Homo sapiens: one gene and its partners. The protein of the gene in region 3 interacts with the protein of the main gene of each other region in a biochemical or structural test. Each region holds a gene or a part of one and is shown on either strand. Other genes may lie near its edges.

Region 1 (3,522 bases), on a different chromosome or scaffold from region 3:
TCCTGACCTCAGGTGATCCACCCGCCTCAGCCTCCCAAAGTGCTGGGATTATAGGCGTGAGCCACCACGCCTGGCCATCTGCAGTCTTTATGAAGAGTTTATGTTATGTTAAATTAAAAATATATATATATTTTGTAAAGACGGGGTTGTTCTTGCTGTGTTGCCCAGGTTGGTCTCGAACTCCTGGCCTCAAGTGATCGTCCCACCTCAGCCTCCCAAAGCATTAGGATTATAGGTGTGAGCCACCATGCTTGGTGGATTTTTTTTTTTTTTTTTTTTGAGATGGAGTCTTGCTCTGTCGCCCAGGCTGGAGTGCAGTGGTGTGATCTCGGCTCACTGCAAGCTCTGCCTCCTGGGTTCATGCCATTCTCCTGCCTCAGCCTCCCGAGTAGCTGGGACTACAGGCGCCCACCACCATGCCCAGCTAATTTTTTGTATTTTTAGTAGAGATGGGGTTTTGCTGTGTTAGCCAGGATGGTCTCAATCTCCTGACCTCATGATGCTGCCCACCTTGGACTCCCAAAGTACTGGATTACAGGCGTGAGCCACTGTGCCCAGCCTGGATTATTATTTTTATAATCAGAAAGGACATCAAAGCTTTTTCCATTTTGGAGAAACGAATTTTGGGGGGTTTTTTGTTTGTTTTTTGAAACGGTATGCCACCATGCGTGGCTAATTTTTGTATTTTTTGTTAGAAATGGGGTCTCACTGTGTTGTCCAGGTTAGTCTTGAACTCCTGGGCTCAAACAATTCTCACCCTCCTTGGCCTTCTAAAGTGCTGGGATGATAGACATGCGCCAGTGCGCCCAGCTGAGAAACAGTTTTAATCTAGTGACAAACACTGGTGAAGCCCTCCTCCCTGTCTGACTTTCCAGGGGCTGAGTTATCATCAGAAAGTTGTTTGCAGAGCGGGGCTGGCCAAGGGGTATCAGGCTGGCCCCATCACAGGCCGGGTACTGCTCCTCCTGAGCAGGGTCCATCTTTAGCTCTGAGCAGTCAGGGCTAGTCAGGAACTCCCAGCCTGATGTGCAATCTCAGACAGGCTGTGTGTCCCTCGCTGCCCCAGGGGCAAGACTGGCGCCCTCCTCCACCACCCTGCCCCTCCCTGCCACCTGAGAACACTTGGATGCATGTTGTGTTCATGGCCGCATCCTCTGGGGGCTTTTGTTACACCTCTCAGGTGACACGTTCCGTGACTCACCAGTTAGATGACTCCCTTCTGTCCTTGTCTCTTGAAACACCACCTGGGGCTGGCTGGCCGTGCCCCTTGGCCCTGGTGGCCTCCCCGTGGCTGTGGTCACCCTGCATTCTTGCTGGGTTTTGGGAGGCACTCAGGTCCCCCCACTTCCCTTTGGAGCCACCTCATGGCTGCTCCTGTGAGCGCAAGCTGGTGTCCCCCTTCATGGTGGAGACTGAGGCTCAGAAAAGTCCGGTCTGCAAAAAGGTGCCCTGCCATGGGCCGCCGTGGGCAGGTCGGGCTCTGGGCGCATCCTCGTTGGTGTGTCTGTGCTCCAAGCAGACACCAGGGCTCTGGCTGGGTCTCCTGGCCTAGATGTTTCCTAGGGTCCTGTGTGCTGGGAGCCTAGAGTGAGTGAGTCAGGCAAGGTCCCCTGCCGAGGTCTCCTTCAAGGCTCCTTGGGAGCTGGTGCAGGGGTGGCAGGTCTGCCCATGGCCTCGGGGTTCGTTGTACAGCAGGAGTTGAGGCCATCTGGGTCTGGGCCCCATGGCTTTGAGATGTGTGGGACAAATACAACCTTCCCAAGTCTCTGTAAACAAGGGGTCGTACCCCAGGCTGGACTACAGATGGGGAAACTGAGGCTCAGCGAGGCGGCTGGCCCCTTGGCACCGTATCATCTGAGATCTCCACCTTGCAGAGCGGTGGGCGGTGTCAGTCCCACCCCACCTCTGAGGAGGTGACCTTGTGTGGTGCTGCCTGAGGTGGGGGTGACGGGCAGGCATGGGGGCTGGAGTGGCTGACCCTGCCTCCCCGTGTCTGCCTGTGTCTCCAGGATAGTGGCTACCCAGAGACGCTGGTCAACCTCATCGTCCTGTCCCAGCACCTGGGCAAGCCCCCTGAGGTAAGCGGCCCCCAGGGCTCCAGGCCAACCCTAATGTCCAGACCCTGGGACCCCAGCCTGGGGTCCAGGCCCTAATCCCTAGGCCCCTGGGAAAACTCTGTATACAGTATGCCTACCGCAGCCCACCTCCCTCACAAACCCTGTGCCCCCCAACCCATCCTCACCTGGGGCCCTGCCCGACCTGCTCCCCTGAACACCACAATACATCCCCCACCATGTACGGAGGCCAGCTCCATGCCAGCGCCTCTCCAGGGGGCAGGCCCATCCCTCCACCCCCACCCTGAAGGTTCTCCGAGATCAGCCCAGTCCCAAGGCAGGGTGAGGAGCCCCCTGGGGTACTGTGGCTCTCACCCCAATCCACCCCTGTCCAGCAGGTCAGAGCCACCGTGGGGTCCCCGTGTTCGGCTCACCTGCCTCCCTGCCTCCCCTGCAGGTGACAAACCGATACCTGTCCCAGCTGAAGGATGCCCACAGGTCCCATCCCTTCATCAAGGAGTACCAGGCCAAGGTGAGTGGTGGGGATGGCCTGTCCCCGAGAACCAGGCCAGGGGGCGCCTGGAGCTCAGCCTGGGCTCACATGCGCCCTCTCTCTCTCCCTCCACCTGTCTCCCCACACCCTGCCCCCACCCTGTGTTGCCATGTGTCTTGCTAAAGGAGAACGACTTTGACAGGCTGGTGCTACAGTACGCTCCCAGCGCCTGAGGCTGGCCCAGAGCTGTCAGGACCATGAAGCCAGGACAGAGGCCAGGAGCCAGCCCTGCAGCCCTCCCCACCCGGCATCCACCTGCATCCCCTCTGGGGGCAGGAGCCCACCCCCAGCACCCCCATCTGTTAATAAATATCTCAACTCCAGGGTGTTCCACCTGATGATGTGCTCTGGTCACTTTGCTGGGGGCGTGTGGGAGCTGACGCTCAGGGAGAGTCCTGGGGCACTGGCATCCAGGGCTGTTCCTGGAGACCAGGGTCTGTGACGAGCAGCAGGTGTGCAGACCCCCACCCCGCCCCTCACACAGCCACAACCTGCTCCTGCAGGCCAGAGGCAGCACAGCCCTGTCCCCATGCTTCACCCTGGCCCCTAGAGGCCACTGAGCAGCCCTGGTTGGCATCGGGGGAAACTGAGGCACAGAGAAGTCATGCCGCTATCATGAGGGGCACCAAGATTCAAAATGAGAACCCCTAGTGGCCTGGAGGAAGTGGGGGCCAGGGCAGGAAAAACTCAGGCCTCAGCTCAGCAAAGCCGGAGGGGCCCTGCAGGGTCAGCGTTAACCCCAGGTGCTGCTCCTGCCGCCCCGCAAACCCTCCTCCAAGGCAGAGTCCTGCTGTGGCAGGGTCCTGGGGCCAAGCACCCAGCCGCGATGAGAGGCGGCCGCACCATTTAGGGAGGGAGGTGGGTGGGTGGCAGCAGGGCTGGCCGGAGCCTCCCAGATGTCACCATTGAGCTGTG
Region 2 (3,748 bases), on a different chromosome or scaffold from region 3:
TTAAATGCCACTGCCACCAGTAAGACCTTTCTAGTTACCCTAGCCTGAAGCATTCTTTCCTAGGGAATCCTATAGGATTTCATTTTAACTGTTCATGGTACACTTGTGTACACATCTTTTCTTGCTTTCTAGAGTAGATCCTCCTTAAAGCCAGGGTCATTGCTTATACATGTCTTTATCTCCAGATCACCTTATATATTTGAGTATGGGGGTTTAAGAACAGATACCATAACACAAGACTAGAAAGCCATGATGGATTTAAATTTCAGTTCCACCACTCATTTCAGATGTGCAATAGTGGGCAAATTTACTTAACCTCTTTCAAGTTTGACTTATGTAAAACAGGAATATTATTATTATCTACCTCTTAGTGCTGTAAGAATTAAATTCAGAGTTAGCCAGTTAGAGCAGTGCCTGACCTACAGTAACCACTTCACAAACATATAACTCTATCTCCCAGCTGCTGTGAGAATTAGGCAGCCATGTTTAGCAAAGTGCATGGCAGACACTAAATATTCTATGGTAAATGTACAAATGAATGAATTCACGTTTTGTATTTTCCACAAAGGATTTAAAATATATAAAGAATGAAGGCAATATTTCATTATAGAAATACACTGGTAAATGTAAAGACGGCAAAAGAAAATGAAATTAGGCAGATCCAAGAGCCTTTTCCAAAAACGTCCATTACTGCAACCACAGCAGACCCAAACTACATCAGGTAGTTAGTAATACGAAGTGCTCTAATTAAGAGGCTTGAGGTCTTGTTCAGGGACTGTAACCTGGGTGCCCAAGAAAGTCCACGGATAGTGCTAGCTTCGGCAGCACATAGAGAGGAGATTAGCGTGGCCCCTGCGCAAGTATGACACGCAAATCCGTGAAGCGTTCCATATTTTTTATAAAACAAATTAAAAAAAAAAAGAAGGTCCATGGATTGTGGGGGGGGGTGTCTGTGAATGAATGCACTGAATTTTATGCAAAAATGTTTGTTTCTCTGTGCATTTTCCCTGGGAGTATTCCTAACTTTTTCCTAGTTCCAACTTTGCCACAATTAACCTTGTAGAAACATAATTTAAAAAAATTTTTTAACTTAAGATGAGGGACTTAATCCCTAGCGTCTTCAAGCTCCAAAATGTTTGATTCTGTGCTTCATAACAAGTTTTTTTTTTTTTTTTTTTGAGACGGAGTCTTGCTCTGTCCCAGGCTGGAGTGCAGTGGTGCGACCTCGGCTCACTGCAGCCTCTGCCTCCCGGGTTCAAGCGATTCTCCTGCCTCAGCCTCCTGAGTAGCTGGGACTACAGGGGCCCGCCACCACGCCCGGCTAATTTCTTTTTTTTTTTTTTGCATTTTCAATAGAGACGGAAGATATTCTTATACTATCGTTTTCTTTCCTTATTATTATAACACTCTTGTGCAAACTAGTCTAGGGCGTTTTTTAGGGTTACGGTGATAATAACAAAGTGCTCTAACAATTACTATTCTTACCAGCCACTGGATTTGCAAATGCATAAAAGCACACCAGCCAGTGTTATAAACAGCACCCCCTTCCTCCCAACCCTTCTTCTCCCCTTAGAAACCTAACAGCTGAGATATCAAAGCATTTGAAATTCCATTTTTGACTCCATATACATTTGTTTTTGGCTTCTTTGCTTGTTTATAGTTTGTAGCCAGCACACACTATCCCCAGAATAAGCCCAACAGGAGTGTAGATTAACTACCACCGTTTTAAAGGCAAACTTTAGTTTTACCAAAGCCTCCTACGGAGTTCAACACATTCGGCTTCTGTGTTTCCCTACACCACCGATCCCGCTGCAGACTGCAGGAGCTCTGGCAAGCGCCACAAGCGCCAGGGGAGACAAAACCCCTCACTAGCAGGCTTTGCCTCCCCAAATCACCCCGGTCCCCTAGGCCCCACCGCCTTCTCCCTTCCTGGAATCAAACGACCAAGACCCCGCAAGGCCTGAGGCGGCGGCCGCAGCGGGAGCCCAGACCACTGCTTACCGCGGCCCTCAGTCCAGAAGCTCCAGGAATCGGCCGTAACCTATGGGACCCCGCTCCCTTCTACGGGATCTGGACCTACCATGGCTGCGTCGGTCCAATCCCGGGAACCCTCGTTTGTTACCGGCTACTCAGGCCTTGAGATAAACCCACCGATCCACTGACCGTCAGACTGACTGACGTGGAACTTCCGGGAGCCGATTCTCGCGATAGTCAGAGGCCAGGGCCGGAGCGCCTGCGCAAACTGCGCGCAGGGCCGTCGTTTCCCAAGCCCCGCCCCAGTTTCCTAGGCAACGTGGCCTTCCAGACCGCTGGTAGTGGACTTGAGGCTGTCGGGAAGGAGGGGTGTGGCCTAGACCACTAAGGGCCGTGACGTGGTGCCGCTGAGCTTGGACCCCGACCAGAAGATAGAGATTGAAACGATGAGGAAAACGAAGTGCCTAATCCCCGCTGGACGCTAACTGCAGGGCAAGCTCCCCAGTGTTGTAGTTGTGTTTCGGAGGCCGAGAACCGCTATCGGGCTTCCTCGGACTCTGGCCCTGGAGGGGGGAAACGGCGAGGGAGAAGGCGAAACGAGTCTCCAGTGTGTTCTTGGGGCCTGGTGCGAGGCCCAGAGAATTCTCTGCAGGCCTTTGCCCGGGCACTGATTAAGGCTGCGAAGAGACGCACCGGGCTGCGGGCTTAGTAGCTTCAGGCTTCTGAAGTCAGAGGGAGGGCTGAGAGCTTACACTTCTGGAGCTCCCCGGGAGACGGCAACTACCCAACCGTGTGGGTGTGTTTGTGTATGTGTCTTTTGTTGAGCTTCGGCTGGCTGTGTTATTCATTCAACAAATATTTATCGATCTTCGGCAGTGTGTCAGACATACCTTCTTCTCAAATCTTCACATCAAACCTGAATTATCTCCATTTAATGATGAGGAAACTCGGGCTCAAAGAAGTTAAGTGTTCTAGCCAAGACTGCATAGTAAGTGGCAGATAAAACCTCAAAGTTGGGCCGGGCGCGGTGGCTCACGCCTGTAATCCCAGCACTTTGGGAGGCCGAAACGGGTGGATCACCTGAGGTCAGGAGTTCGAGACCAGCCTGGCCAACATGGTGAAACCCCGTCTCTATTAAAAATACAAAATTAGCCTGGCGTGGTGGCGGGCGCCTGTAATCCAAGCTGTTCCAGAGGCTGACAGGAGAATCGCTTAGAACCCAGGAGGTGGAGGTTGCAGTGAGCTGAGATCGCGCCACTGCACTCCAGCCTGGGCAACAGAGCAAGACTCTGTCTCAAAACAAAACACCTCAAAGTTTGTGCTCTTTCTACTACATAAAAATATCTCTTCATTAATGTGGCTGAATTCTAAGGGCCTGTGCCATAGGGGTTACACTACACAATAAAGTTCGAGAACATTTGCCTGTCACACGCACTGCACATCTCCTGTATTTCCTTTTTTTTTTTTTTTTTAAGAAAACATGTGGACCATAGAAAACTTGCCCTCTGGTTACACGTACAAACGTGTATTTTTAACTTGAGAGAAATCTTAAAGTCTTTTCAGACCTCCAGATTTTCAGAAAGGCAAAAAGAAAAATTATGTATTTGTGTGTGTAGATAATGATAATCAGAGGGAGATGATTTTGCACGAAATTATTTGGCTTTAGTAGGAGCCTTGAGCTAATGTGACTCTCTTCATGGGCCTCAGTTTTCATCATCTTAAAAAAAATCCAGCTACATGGTTTCTAAAGATCCTTCCATTTTTTTTTTTTTTA
Region 3 (3,748 bases):
GTAATTATTTCCATCTCTGTATCCAAAGGGGTCCTATGTGTTCACTGGATTTTCTTTTTTTTTTTTTCTTTTTTTTGAGGCGGAGTCTCGCTCTTGTTGCCCAGGCTGGAGTGCAATGGCATGATCTCGGCTCACTGCAACCTCCGCCTCCTGGGTCCAAGCGATTCTCCTGCCTCAGCTTCCCGAGTAGGTGGGACTACAGGCGTGCACCATGATTCCCAGCTAATTTTTTTTGTATTTTTAGTAGAGACAGGGTTTCACCATGTTGGCCAGGATGGTCTCGAGCTCTTGACCTCGGGATCCGCCTGCCTTGGCCTCCCAAAGTGCTGGGATTACAGATGTGAGCCACCGCACCCAGCCGATTTTCAATGGAATTAGACTAAAAGCTAGGAGTAATTGAAAGTATAGGAAGTTCTTCAGGAAATCTATATAGATGCAGATGCTTTGCAGAGTCCTTGGTTTTGAGTCACATTGTCCTTCAACCTGTTAACACGACCCTGGGGATTCTTTAGATTGCTCTGGAAGCAGCCAAAGCACTGGATGACAAGAACTGCTGGGAAAAGCTGGGAGAAGTGGCCCTGCTGCAGGGGAACCACCAGATTGTGGAAATGTGCTATCAGCGTACCAAAAACTTTGACAAACTTTCCTTCCTGTATCTTATCACTGGCAACTTAGAAAAACTTCGCAAGATGATGAAGATTGGTGAGGCCCTCAAACTAAGGATGGGAAGAGGGGTTCTTGGGGGAAGGAGGAAGGTGAATTAAGGAGAAAGAGAACTTAAGAGAAAAGACCTAACTTGGTGTCTCTTACTTGGTGCAGCTGAGATCAGAAAGGACATGAGTGGCCACTATCAGAATGCCCTATACCTGGGTGATGTGTCAGAGCGTGTGCGGATCCTGAAGAACTGTGGACAGAGTAAGTATCCGAGACTTGCCAGCTTTTTCAGGGTCTGAGGAAGTATTTTTCTGTTTTTGTTGAGTTAATCTGTGTATAGTGGTGAGGGATTTCTCTTTATTGTGCATTTTTTTAGGAGAGACAACATGCTCCTACTGTGCTTAGAAGATTTTCTTCAAAGCCAAAGGGAGGTGCAGCCAGAATATTCAGTCCAGCCAAACACCCTTAGGAGAATAGTTATTCATGGGGGAGATAGGAGGTTTTAAAAGGTCTTGAGTGGACGCCCTAGTAAATGCACTTGGTTGGATGCCATTAGAATTTTATTCTTTATTTTCAGTTTGGAGGTTTCACTCATTTATTCATGTATATAGTCAAGGGATATTTTTTGAGAACCCACTATATACCAAGCATTATATTAGCATTTAAGATACATTAGGAAACAAGCAAGGTGAAAGATGAGGTTTGGACCAAGGCGCTATTAGTGGAGGGGTGAGCAGTGGTCAGATTCAGGATATATTTTAAGGTAGAAACAACATGATTTATTGCGGTAACTAGATTTGAGATGTAACAGAGAGGAGTCAGGGATATCCAAGGTTCTCAGCACGGATGGATACGTCTCAAAGATAAGCAGCTATATTAGTTCTCTATTTCTGTGTAACAAATTATCCCCAAATTTAGTAGTTTAAAACCACAAACATTTATTATTTCACAATTTGTGGCATGGCTTAGCTAGGTGCCTCCGGCTTAGGATCTCTCATGAGGCTACAGTCAAAGTGTTGGCCAGAACTGCAGATATCTGAAGACTCACCGGGGAGAGAATCTACTTCTGCACTCACTCAATGGCCATTGGCAGCCCCCATGTCCTTGCTCCCTGTTGTCTAAGAAACATCACTTTCTTTTCGTGTTGACCTCTCCATAGGAGTTTGTAACGTGGTAGCTAGTTTCCCTTACAGCAAGTGAGCAAAAGAGGGCACCCCAAGATAGAAGCCACAATCTTTGTAACCAGATCTAGGAAGTAACATCCCATCACATCTGCCATGTTCCATCCATTAGAAGCTATTTAATAAATCCAGCCCACACTTAAGAGGTGGGTATTTTGCAACAACTTGAATACCAGGAGTCAGGGATTACTGGGGGGCCATTTCAGAGGTTGCTTACCACAGCAGCATGCATTTGGAAATGTACCTATACCACAAAGTCTGTTTTCTCTACAGAGTCCCTGGCCTATCTCACAGCTGCTACCCATGGCTTAGATGAAGAAGCTGAGAGCCTAAAGGAGACATTTGACCCAGAGAAGGAGACAGTGAGTCTTTATTTACATAATTGTCTCTTATTACAGGATTAACTCTAGGATCTTAGAACAATTTAAAATTATGAATGTCACTCTCCCACCTGGTTACCAGGAGAGGCAGAGAAACAAATGAGATCAAAGGAGGCTCCATAACTTTCCTTACGTGACTTCCAAGTGCTATTTGTTTTTAGCCTCTTTTCTTCTACTATTCAGATCCCAGACATTGACCCTAATGCCAAGCTGCTCCAGCCACCTGCACCTATCATGCCATTGGATACCAATTGGCCTTTATTGACTGTATCCAAAGGATTTTTTGAAGGCACCATTGCCAGCAAAGGTAAGTACCTATTTCTCCCATAGCACTTTTGTTGTTTGTTTTGTGAAGAACTGTCCTAGAGAATACCATTAGCATTTAGTTTAACTTGTCCTTTTTTTCTGCATGGAGCCTAATGGAATATTGAAATGCCAGTCATTTATGGTGCAGTCTTAAAAACTTAAGATAGCATTTTCAGGTCATTAAAGAAAATTTGGAAAATAGGGAGAAAAAAAGGGATCCCTCTACTACCATCAATAACTTCGGTTAATATTTTGGTGTATTTTCTTAGGTTTTACTATATATGTAGTCATGTTCTTTGTTCAGTATTTTATCATTCATGACATACAATCTTAAAGGTACTAATTCAACTACCTGTAATTCCGGTATGTGGGTATAGGCAGATGTGTGCTATCACCCTCCACCACTTCCACCCTTAACCTCCTCCTGTTTTCTGGGTCTCCTAGTTCATTTCCCGTGAGTAAGAGCCTAAACAGACTCTTGAGCATTTTGTGCCAAACCCCACTCTTTTCTCCACCTCCTCTATCTACCCTATGCCTGATGCCCTGTACACATTGTAGTGGTGGTAGCTTAGCAAAGCGCTCAGGAAGAAATTCAAGAGTTGGTAGCCAAAGGCTGGTAAGTACAAATTATTTAAGAGCCAGTTTTTGGTAGCAGGAAGGCCAGTTCCTTCCATCTGTCTTCTATTCCCTCCCTCTGTGAAAGCTACTGCAAGTTAGCATAACATATATACCACAAAAATAAATAATACACAAAAATAAATAGTAAGTAGGCAGAAGCTTGGCACCTGTTTTTGAAAGGATTTAACCTGCCTACAGAAAAGGCCGTATCTCAGACTTGCTGGACTATAACCAGTTCCGTTCTGTTCCTTCCCTCTGTAGGGAAGGGAGGAGCACTGGCTGCTGACATTGACATTGACACTGTTGGTACAGAGGGCTGGGGAGAGGATGCAGAGCTGCAGTTGGATGAAGGTAAAAGTGCTGTTTTAAGACTGTTCTGGGGTGATGGACACCTTGGATTGGGACTGGGTTGTGGGTAGCTCTGCAGACTTCCAGGCCATGAAACGAACTAGGATTGATTTTACTTCCTTTGGCTAAGATTATGCCACTGCCCAAATCTGTTTTGAGCTTGAATTTTCCTTACAGATGGGTTTGTGGAGGCTACAGAAGGTTTGGGGGATGATGCTCTTGGCAAGGGACAGGAAGAAGGAGGTGGCTGGGATGTAGAAG

The links.
Region 1: the proteins of COPA (region 3) and COPE form a complex in vitro, tested with the Homo sapiens proteins (3 studies listed by BioGRID, with this or other methods).
Region 2: the proteins of COPA (region 3) and COPB2 form a complex in vitro, tested with the Homo sapiens proteins (one study listed by BioGRID).

The regions. Positions count from the first base shown.
Region 1 is NC_000019.10:18,898,937-18,902,458, reverse strand, and holds the end of COPE (coatomer subunit epsilon), read left to right. Parts: intron 1-2,009; coding exon 2,010-2,078; intron 2,079-2,511; coding exon 2,512-2,586; intron 2,587-2,732; coding exon 2,733-2,780; 3' UTR 2,781-2,945; downstream 2,946-3,522. UniProt on the Homo sapiens protein: The coatomer is a cytosolic protein complex that binds to dilysine motifs and reversibly associates with Golgi non-clathrin-coated vesicles, which further mediate biosynthetic protein transport from the ER, via the Golgi up to the trans Golgi network.
Region 2 is NC_000003.12:139,387,468-139,391,215, forward strand, and holds the start of COPB2 (coatomer subunit beta'), read right to left. Parts: upstream 2,181-3,748; 5' UTR 2,084-2,180; coding exon 2,081-2,083; exon of another isoform or gene 2,002-2,080; intron 898-2,001; exon of another isoform or gene 812-897; intron 1-811. UniProt on the Homo sapiens protein: The coatomer is a cytosolic protein complex that binds to dilysine motifs and reversibly associates with Golgi non-clathrin-coated vesicles, which further mediate biosynthetic protein transport from the ER, via the Golgi up to the trans Golgi network.
Region 3 is NC_000001.11:160,294,510-160,298,257, reverse strand, and holds part of COPA (coatomer subunit alpha), read left to right. Parts: intron 1-512; coding exon 513-702; intron 703-819; coding exon 820-915; intron 916-2,108; coding exon 2,109-2,197; intron 2,198-2,398; coding exon 2,399-2,522; intron 2,523-3,400; coding exon 3,401-3,490; intron 3,491-3,664; coding exon 3,665-3,748. UniProt on the Homo sapiens protein: The coatomer is a cytosolic protein complex that binds to dilysine motifs and reversibly associates with Golgi non-clathrin-coated vesicles, which further mediate biosynthetic protein transport from the ER, via the Golgi up to the trans Golgi network.